2 linked regions of the Homo sapiens genome follow. The protein of the gene in region 2 interacts with the protein of the main gene of each other region in a biochemical or structural test. Each region holds a gene or a part of one and is shown on either strand. Other genes may lie near its edges.

The links.
Region 1: the proteins of FYB1 (region 2) and SH2D1A form a complex in vitro, tested with the Homo sapiens proteins (one study listed by IntAct).

What each region holds. Positions count from the first base shown.
Region 1 is NC_000023.11:124,363,324-124,367,157, reverse strand, and holds part of SH2D1A (SH2 domain-containing protein 1A), read right to left. Parts: intron 1,398-3,834; coding exon 1,334-1,397; intron 1-1,333.
Region 2 is NC_000005.10:39,195,305-39,199,138, reverse strand, and holds part of FYB1 (FYN-binding protein 1), read left to right. Parts: intron 1-3,834. UniProt on the Homo sapiens protein: Acts as an adapter protein of the FYN and LCP2 signaling cascades in T-cells. May play a role in linking T-cell signaling to remodeling of the actin cytoskeleton. Modulates the expression of IL2. Involved in platelet activation.

The sequences.
Region 1 (3,834 bases), on a different chromosome or scaffold from region 2:
AGATCAGACAACAGGATGAGGGGGCATTTGTGTTCAATAAGCCCTCTCTTCTTTAACATGATCACAAGCATGTAACAATCTCATATGATGTTATACTCAAAATGCAGGAAAACAAGTTGAAAAACAAAGTTGTTAAACCCTAAGCATTTAAGATCCTTTCCTTACATAATATTCTTCAGCAGCTGAAGGGTATTTCTCTGGGGAGAAGAGCTATTTCTGGCGAAATAATATACAAACGTGTGTGTGTGTGTGTGTGTGTGTGTGTGTGTGTGTGTGTGTGTTTGTCAGTATATTTTACACATAACTTTCTTCATAATAAAGTTTAATTTCTTATTCAATCATCTCTGCAGTGATACAGAGAATTTTTTAAATAAACAGGTATAAATAGTTTCAATTAGAAATGGTATAACTTTATCTTTAGTTAGTATTATAGTTTTAATGATCCTTACATAATACAGCAAAAGTGTGTTTGAAAACTTGGCCTAATTCATCTCAGTGGTTCAAAACATTTGTGGTCTGTAATTTATACTTTCCAACTTACTGATAAATCAGTAAACGTGAGAGCTATTTTAACTTCTTGAAGTCTAGACTTCAGAAAATTTTAAATGCACAGATTGAGTTATTAATAGGAGTTGTGGCAATTTTCAGGAGTTCACTTTTTTGAGGGCTCACTGTGTGCCAGGCCTTGTGGCAAACAGCTTCTTTATGTGTGTTATCTTATTTACTTTTCAAATTGAGCCTTGTGCATAAGGGAGGATTCTTAGGCTCCGTTTACAAATGAAGAAACTGGCTCACAGAAAAGTCAAGTAACCTGCCCAAGATCATAGACCTATCAGAGAGGAGGGGAGACCAGACCTGGAACCCAGATTCACCTGTTGACAAAGCCTAGTTTCTTCCACTCATAACTGTTTAATTTCAAGTTATAACTTCCCAAGTATATTGTAGTCTCTTAGAAAATAAGCATCATGTTTTTTAATCTCCCACGATACCAATACTCATATTGGTATCATTTGGTAAATAATTGTTCATTTAATTATTTTACCTACTTTTGATATGCTAAGATTTCACATAGTCACTAAAAGTTTGACATAATTCTTCAACTTTTTTATCTTTCTCCCAAAGTCATACAACTCTGCAAAATGATGGCTAAACAGGACTGGGACCAAAATTCTCTAAAGCTTTCTTAATGATCCATGAACAATTTTGGATTGGAGCTTTAGAGATTTAAACCTTATGAATACTTAATAATGTATAATTTGCTCTTTTATAAAACCAGCCTAAATTTCAAATACCTCCTTGACACCCCCAGAAGCAAAAATAAATACAACTATACCTCAGCACTCCAAGAACCTGTTTCTGTCTGGGACACTCGGTATGTATAAATGTAACCGTGATACCTGTGAAAGAATAAACTTCCATTACTGAAAGATTCCAAAAGAACAATGGATACTTTAAATTTGAGCTTAATATTACATATAAATGTCACATATACTAGGACACACGTATATGGTGTCATTGCATTCATAGGAAGTAAAGCATAGTGAATCTAACTTGTCTCCATATTGTATCTGCCCAACCACAGTTTCCAGTGAGATTTCTTTATCTTTTCATTTTTTGAAATATGGAAATTCATGCTCCTAAAGATTTGTCAAGTTGAGAGACCATTTGGACAGAAAGAAACTACAACAGGGACCTGTTGTAATTGATAAAACCATGAATTATTAGATAGTTTTAACAAACAATAGACTTATTTTTAAGTACATATCGAAACTTAAGGTGAAAACATTTCACTGGGATAATACACTATCAGGCCCACATAAATAATTATTAATATTAATAATATTTGTTATAAATATAATGGCAATAGTATAAGGATATAATACTATAAATTGAATATAACTATATTTTTATAAAATTACTATTATAATGTATAGCAATATAATATTGCCACAGTCATGCATCACTTACCAAGGGGGATACATTATGAGAAGTGCATCATTAGGTGATTTCGTTGTTGTGCAAACATCATAGACTGTACTTACACAAACCTATATGGTATACCACCTAGGCTATGTGGTATAGCCTATTACTCCAGGCTACAAACCTGTACAGCATGTTACTGTACAGAATACTGTATGCAATTGTAACATAATGGTATTTGTGTATCTAAACCTATCTAAACATAGAAAAGGCACAGTAAAATATAGTATAAAAGATAAAGAATGCTATACCTGTTGAGAGTACTTACCATGAATGGAGCTTGCAGGACTGGAAATTGCTCTGGGTGAGTCAATGAGTGAGTGGTGAGTGAATGTGAAGGCCTAGGACATTACACTACTAGAATGTTATGAACACTGTAAACTTAGGCTACACTAAATTTATTTTAAAATATTTATATTTCCCAGATCACGAGGTCAGGAGATCGAGACCATCCTGGTTAACACAACGAAACCCCATCTCTACTAAAAATACAAAAACTTAGCCAGGCATGGTGGCACGCACCTGTAGTCCCAGCTACTTGGGAGGCTGAGGCACTGAGGCAGGAGAATCGCTTGAACTCAGGAGGCGGAGGTTGCAGTGAGACGAGATCACGCCACTGCACTCCAGCCTGGGTGACGGAGCGAGATTGTCTCAAAAAAAAAAAACTGTATCGCTTCAATAATAAATTAATCTTAGCTTCAACTCTTTTACTTTATAAACTTGTAAATTTTTTTAAACTTTTTGACTCTTTTATAACACTTCGCTTAAAACACAAACACATTGTACAGCTGTACAAAACTGTTTTTCTTTATATCCTTATTCCATAAGCTTTTCTCTGTTTCAAAATTTTTATTTTATGTATTCTTTGCTATTTAAACTTTTTTGTTAAAAACTAAAACACAAATACGCACATTAGCCTAGGCCTACAGAGAGGGTCAGGATCATCAGTATCACTGTCTTCCACCTCCACATCTTATCCCACTGCAGGATCTTCAGGTGCAGTCACACACACGGAGCTGTCATCTCCTATGATATTCATATTCCAGAATGCCTTCTGGAATACCTCCTGAGGGACCTGCCCGAGGCTGTTTTACAGCTAACTTTTTTTTATATAAGTAGGAGTAGATTTTAAAATAATGATAAAATGTATAGTACAGTAAATACATAAACCAGTAACACAGTAATTTGTTATCATTATCAAGTATTGTGTACTGTATGTAATTGTCTGTGCTATACATTTTTTTCTTTTTCTTTTTCTTTCTTTTTTTTTTTTTTTTTTTTTTTTTTGAGATAGAGTCTCGCTCTGTTGCCCAGGCTGGAGTGCAGTGGTGCAATCTCAGCTCACTGCAACCTCCGCCTCCCGGGTTCAAGCAATTCTGTTTCAGCCTCCCGAGTAGCTGAGGCTACAGGTGCATGCCACCATGGCTGGCTAATTTTTGTATTTTTAGTAGAGACAGAATTTCACCATATTGGTCAGGCTGGTCTTGAACTCCTGACCTCAGGTGATCCACCCACCTCAGCCTCCCACAGTGCTGGGATTATAGGTGCGAGCCATCACACCTGGCCTGTGCTATACTATTATACAGCTGACAGCACAGTCGGTTTGTTTATACCAGTGTCATCACAAATACATAAGTAATTCATTGTGCTGTGGCATTACAATGGCTACAACATCAGTAGGTGGTAGGAATTTTTCAGCTCCATTATAATCTTATGGGACCACCATTGTATATGCTGTTCGTCGTTAAGGAAAATGTTGCTATATTGCACATGACTGTATTACTATATTACCCTATAATATATTATAAATGAAGTAATAGTAAAAAATATATGAATTAAAAACAAGTGCTGCTT
Region 2 (3,834 bases):
AAATAAATAATTATTAAATAATTAAATAATAATATACATATACGTATACATAAACATGTGGTATATTGTACGTACAGTCTTTAGATGGGAAAATTCTTTATTAAGTGTAATTATCGCCCCCATTTCACAAATGAGTGTTGAGATGTGACATAACCAAATCATATATCTGAGGCTAAAATCCAAGTCTTCAGATTGCAAGTTTAATACTTTCTCCATGTACCATCGTGCCCCTGTATGTATGTTTGCATGTTTATGTTTAAAGCATAAGTGTATTATTTATTTATATAGAATATATATGCAGATATTCCTTGACTTGTGATCGGGTTACATCCTTATAAACATTCTTAAGTTGGAAATATTATAAACTGAAAACACGTTTAATATACCTAACTACCAAATGTCATAGCTTAGCCTAGCCCACCTTAAACATGCTCTGAACACTTACATTAGCCTACAATTGGGCAAAATCATCTCACACAAAGCCTATTTTATAATAAAGTGTTGACTATCTCATGTAATTTATTGAATACTGTACCATGGTTTCTACTGAATGCATATTGCTTTTGTACCATCATAAAGTCAAGTAATCATTAATTTGAACTGTCATAAATAGGGCACCATCTGTGTATGTATACATATTATTACTAATATGTACATGGGATTTTAACTTTTTTCAAAGGACTTTCAAAATGTTTATGTCTTTTATTACTTATAATGTCCCATGAATTAGATACAGCAGTTTAATGAACCCATTTTAAACCAATGTGCAGAGTTGCCAGGTTATCTATTAGTAATGTTATTAATGGTACAGAGCCTAGCATGAGAGTTGTTTGCCATATAATGTAGACTTCAAAGTCAGTGGACCTGGGGTTTAAGCATGACTAATGTACTAGCTATGTGACCTTCGCTTTACCTCTTTCCGTGTATGTCTTTCTTCATTTGAAAAAACGAGTATAATACCACCTACTTCGCCAGCACATTATAATCACTACATGAGATTCGTTGTAAGTGCTTAATACAGAATTTGACATATAATAGTATCAAAATAAGTGAGCATTGTCTATAATTTTATTACTTTTATTAGCATTAAAATTTTATCACCAGCCCCATGATATTCTGATCATCTTATAGTATAAATCATTTTATATTATACTATATTATTCTAGGAATCATGAAACTGCATTTTACTTACTTCTGTTTGTAATATAGAAATGTATTTGTGATTTATGATGCCAGAGTCAAACAATGATTGTTGGAAGAGAGGTTTCCCACCAGAAGTCCATGAAATTTCTGCGCTCAGATGCCTCCTTCCCTACAGCAAAGGCTGGTAGAGAGCAGTAGGCGGCACCCAAGTGGCACTAGGTCACAAGTGCCCCCAGATTTTGCCATCTCCTACTGGCTGAAGCCAAGCGAAGGCATCTGACTCAGCCAAGCAGAGGTGGAGAGGCTGCAAAGCCAGTATAGATGGCTGTTATCCCAAGACACTGGTATTATCAAAGGCAGTTTTCGAAGGTCATTGTTTCCAGAGTGCATTTGCTTTCCCCATTACCTGTCAACCTGGAAGAAATAAATAAATGTGGCCAATGGATTTGCTCTGGATTATGATTGGCCACAGCTGCTTAGATTGGCAACTTCCAGGGAAAATGCTTCTTAGTGTGCTGCTACAGACCCTAAAATTTTTTGAGATTGGAGTTTTTACATGAACTCCAACAAAAAATGCCCTAAACACACCTGACTAGGCATGAATTTTCATATAACAGGGCTTCCAGATAAATTATTTGCTGCATGGTATAATTAGAAAATTATTTATTTGCTTGTAATAAAATGGGAAAGAAGAGAGATTCTATGCTTTAGAAAAAATGAGATTCTATTACTAAATATTTATTCACTAAGATTTAATAGTTATTGACGGGAGCAAAATGAAATGCCTTGCTCAGTGAATGCAGAGACTCCAAAAAGACTATTTTTTCTTGTTAGAAGTAATTATACTAGTGTTCAAATTAACAAACATTCATCTAATAACTCTATATGCCTTTTAAACTAATACTGTTTTCATAGCCTTCTACCTCATTTCTTCCTTTCCAGGTTCTCATCCAATTCTTTAAACCTCTTCCCCAGATATACCCTCCATCTCATCATCTTTGCCCAATGTATTAACTGTTAAAAATATTCATCATTTATTGAGGACTTGCTATATACCACATACACATTATGCCGTTTATTCCTCTCAAGCCATGAATAGGAATTCTATGAGTAAACTAAAGCTCAGAGAGGTTAGGTAACTTGCCCAAAGGCATAACATGACTAAACAAGGCTGGGGTCAATCTCATGTCTTTCTGATTCCGCAGACTGTGTTCCCACCCGCATTCCACTTCCTCGTGCTGGGCTGCCTCTCTTCAAACACAGAATATCACAAGACAATGAATCAAGCATAAATGAAACTCCCAAAATCCTCATTCCTCTCCCTTTCTGTGGCCTTTGGTTGAAACATGCCTTTTGTTTGTTGTCTGTTTTGTAAATACCACTATAAGCTCCATGAAGACAGAAGCCAGTCTGCTTGCCATTCTCTCATTTGGAGTACAAAAGTAATATAAATTTTTGTTAGCTTCTCAAGTTTATTCTTTCACAGAATTCTATTTAACCAGACCGGGTGCGGTGGCTCATGCCTGTAATCCCAGCACTTTGGGAGGCCGAGGCGGGCTGAACACCTGAGATCAGGAGTTCAAGACCAGCCTGGCCAACATGGCGAAACCCCAAAAATACAAAAATTAGCCAGGCATAGTGGTGCGCACCTCCCAGCTACTCAGGAGGCTGGGGCAGGAGAATCATTTGAACCCAGGAGGTGGAGGTTGCAGTGAGCCGAGATTGCACCACTGCACTCCAGCCTGGGTGACAAAGCGAACCCTATCTCAAAAAAAAAAAAAAAAAAAGAAAGAATTATATTTAACTAGAATTTATTTACTCCCAGATTTTGTTCAGTATTAGATTTTAATACTCTATAGCTTAGCAATTGTTTTAACACAATAGATAACCCCTGCCAGTAGACTTGTACTCAACTGAATGGAGCTTGGACACAAAATAAATGTTATAAGAGAGGGTCTATCTTGCAGATCTATTGAGCTCCCTTCCTTGTAAACTGTAAGCTTGACTCTAACATGTTGCTTTCTGATCATGAAGCTAAATTTTTTTTTCCTAAGAACAATTTAAGGTTACAAAAGACTAAACGTTTTTTTTAAAAAAACCCAAAATATCAAAATATTCTCTGAACTAACCTTTCCTTTGCTTCCTTTTGGGTCCTGAGCCAGTTCTGAAAGGGCTTCTTCCCATGTGTCAACACAATGCCTCACCAAAGTTTGGGTTCATAAGAATCCCTGGCCTGACTATTGGTTTGCATGTATGATTTAGTAAAAACCTGCTGGGAAATATTCAGTTTGACCCTTTTTTCTAGTCTTGTTCTTAATACTGCTGAGAGACCAAGACTGATTTTTTCCATATGTTAGCTATAGGAATGATCAGTTAAGCACCTTGACAGCAACAGGTGTAAGGCGAGGGCCCCAGAGGGCATTAACAAAAGACTGATGGCCCCCTCCTCATCTGTGTATGTATCATTTAACTAATCCAGCCTACAACAACTTGAAACCAAAAGGTGCCTGGGCTATTTTCACCAGCAAGTAACTTGTTTCCAGGAGTGGGTAAGATTTTCCTTCACAGGCCCCAAAGCTATCACCTTTCTTTTTCCCCCCATTCTCCTTTTATGTGTACTCTCTTAACATGACCTTATTAGATATTTACATATTGAAAACTGTTTTATATCAGCATGTGGCAGTATTTTCC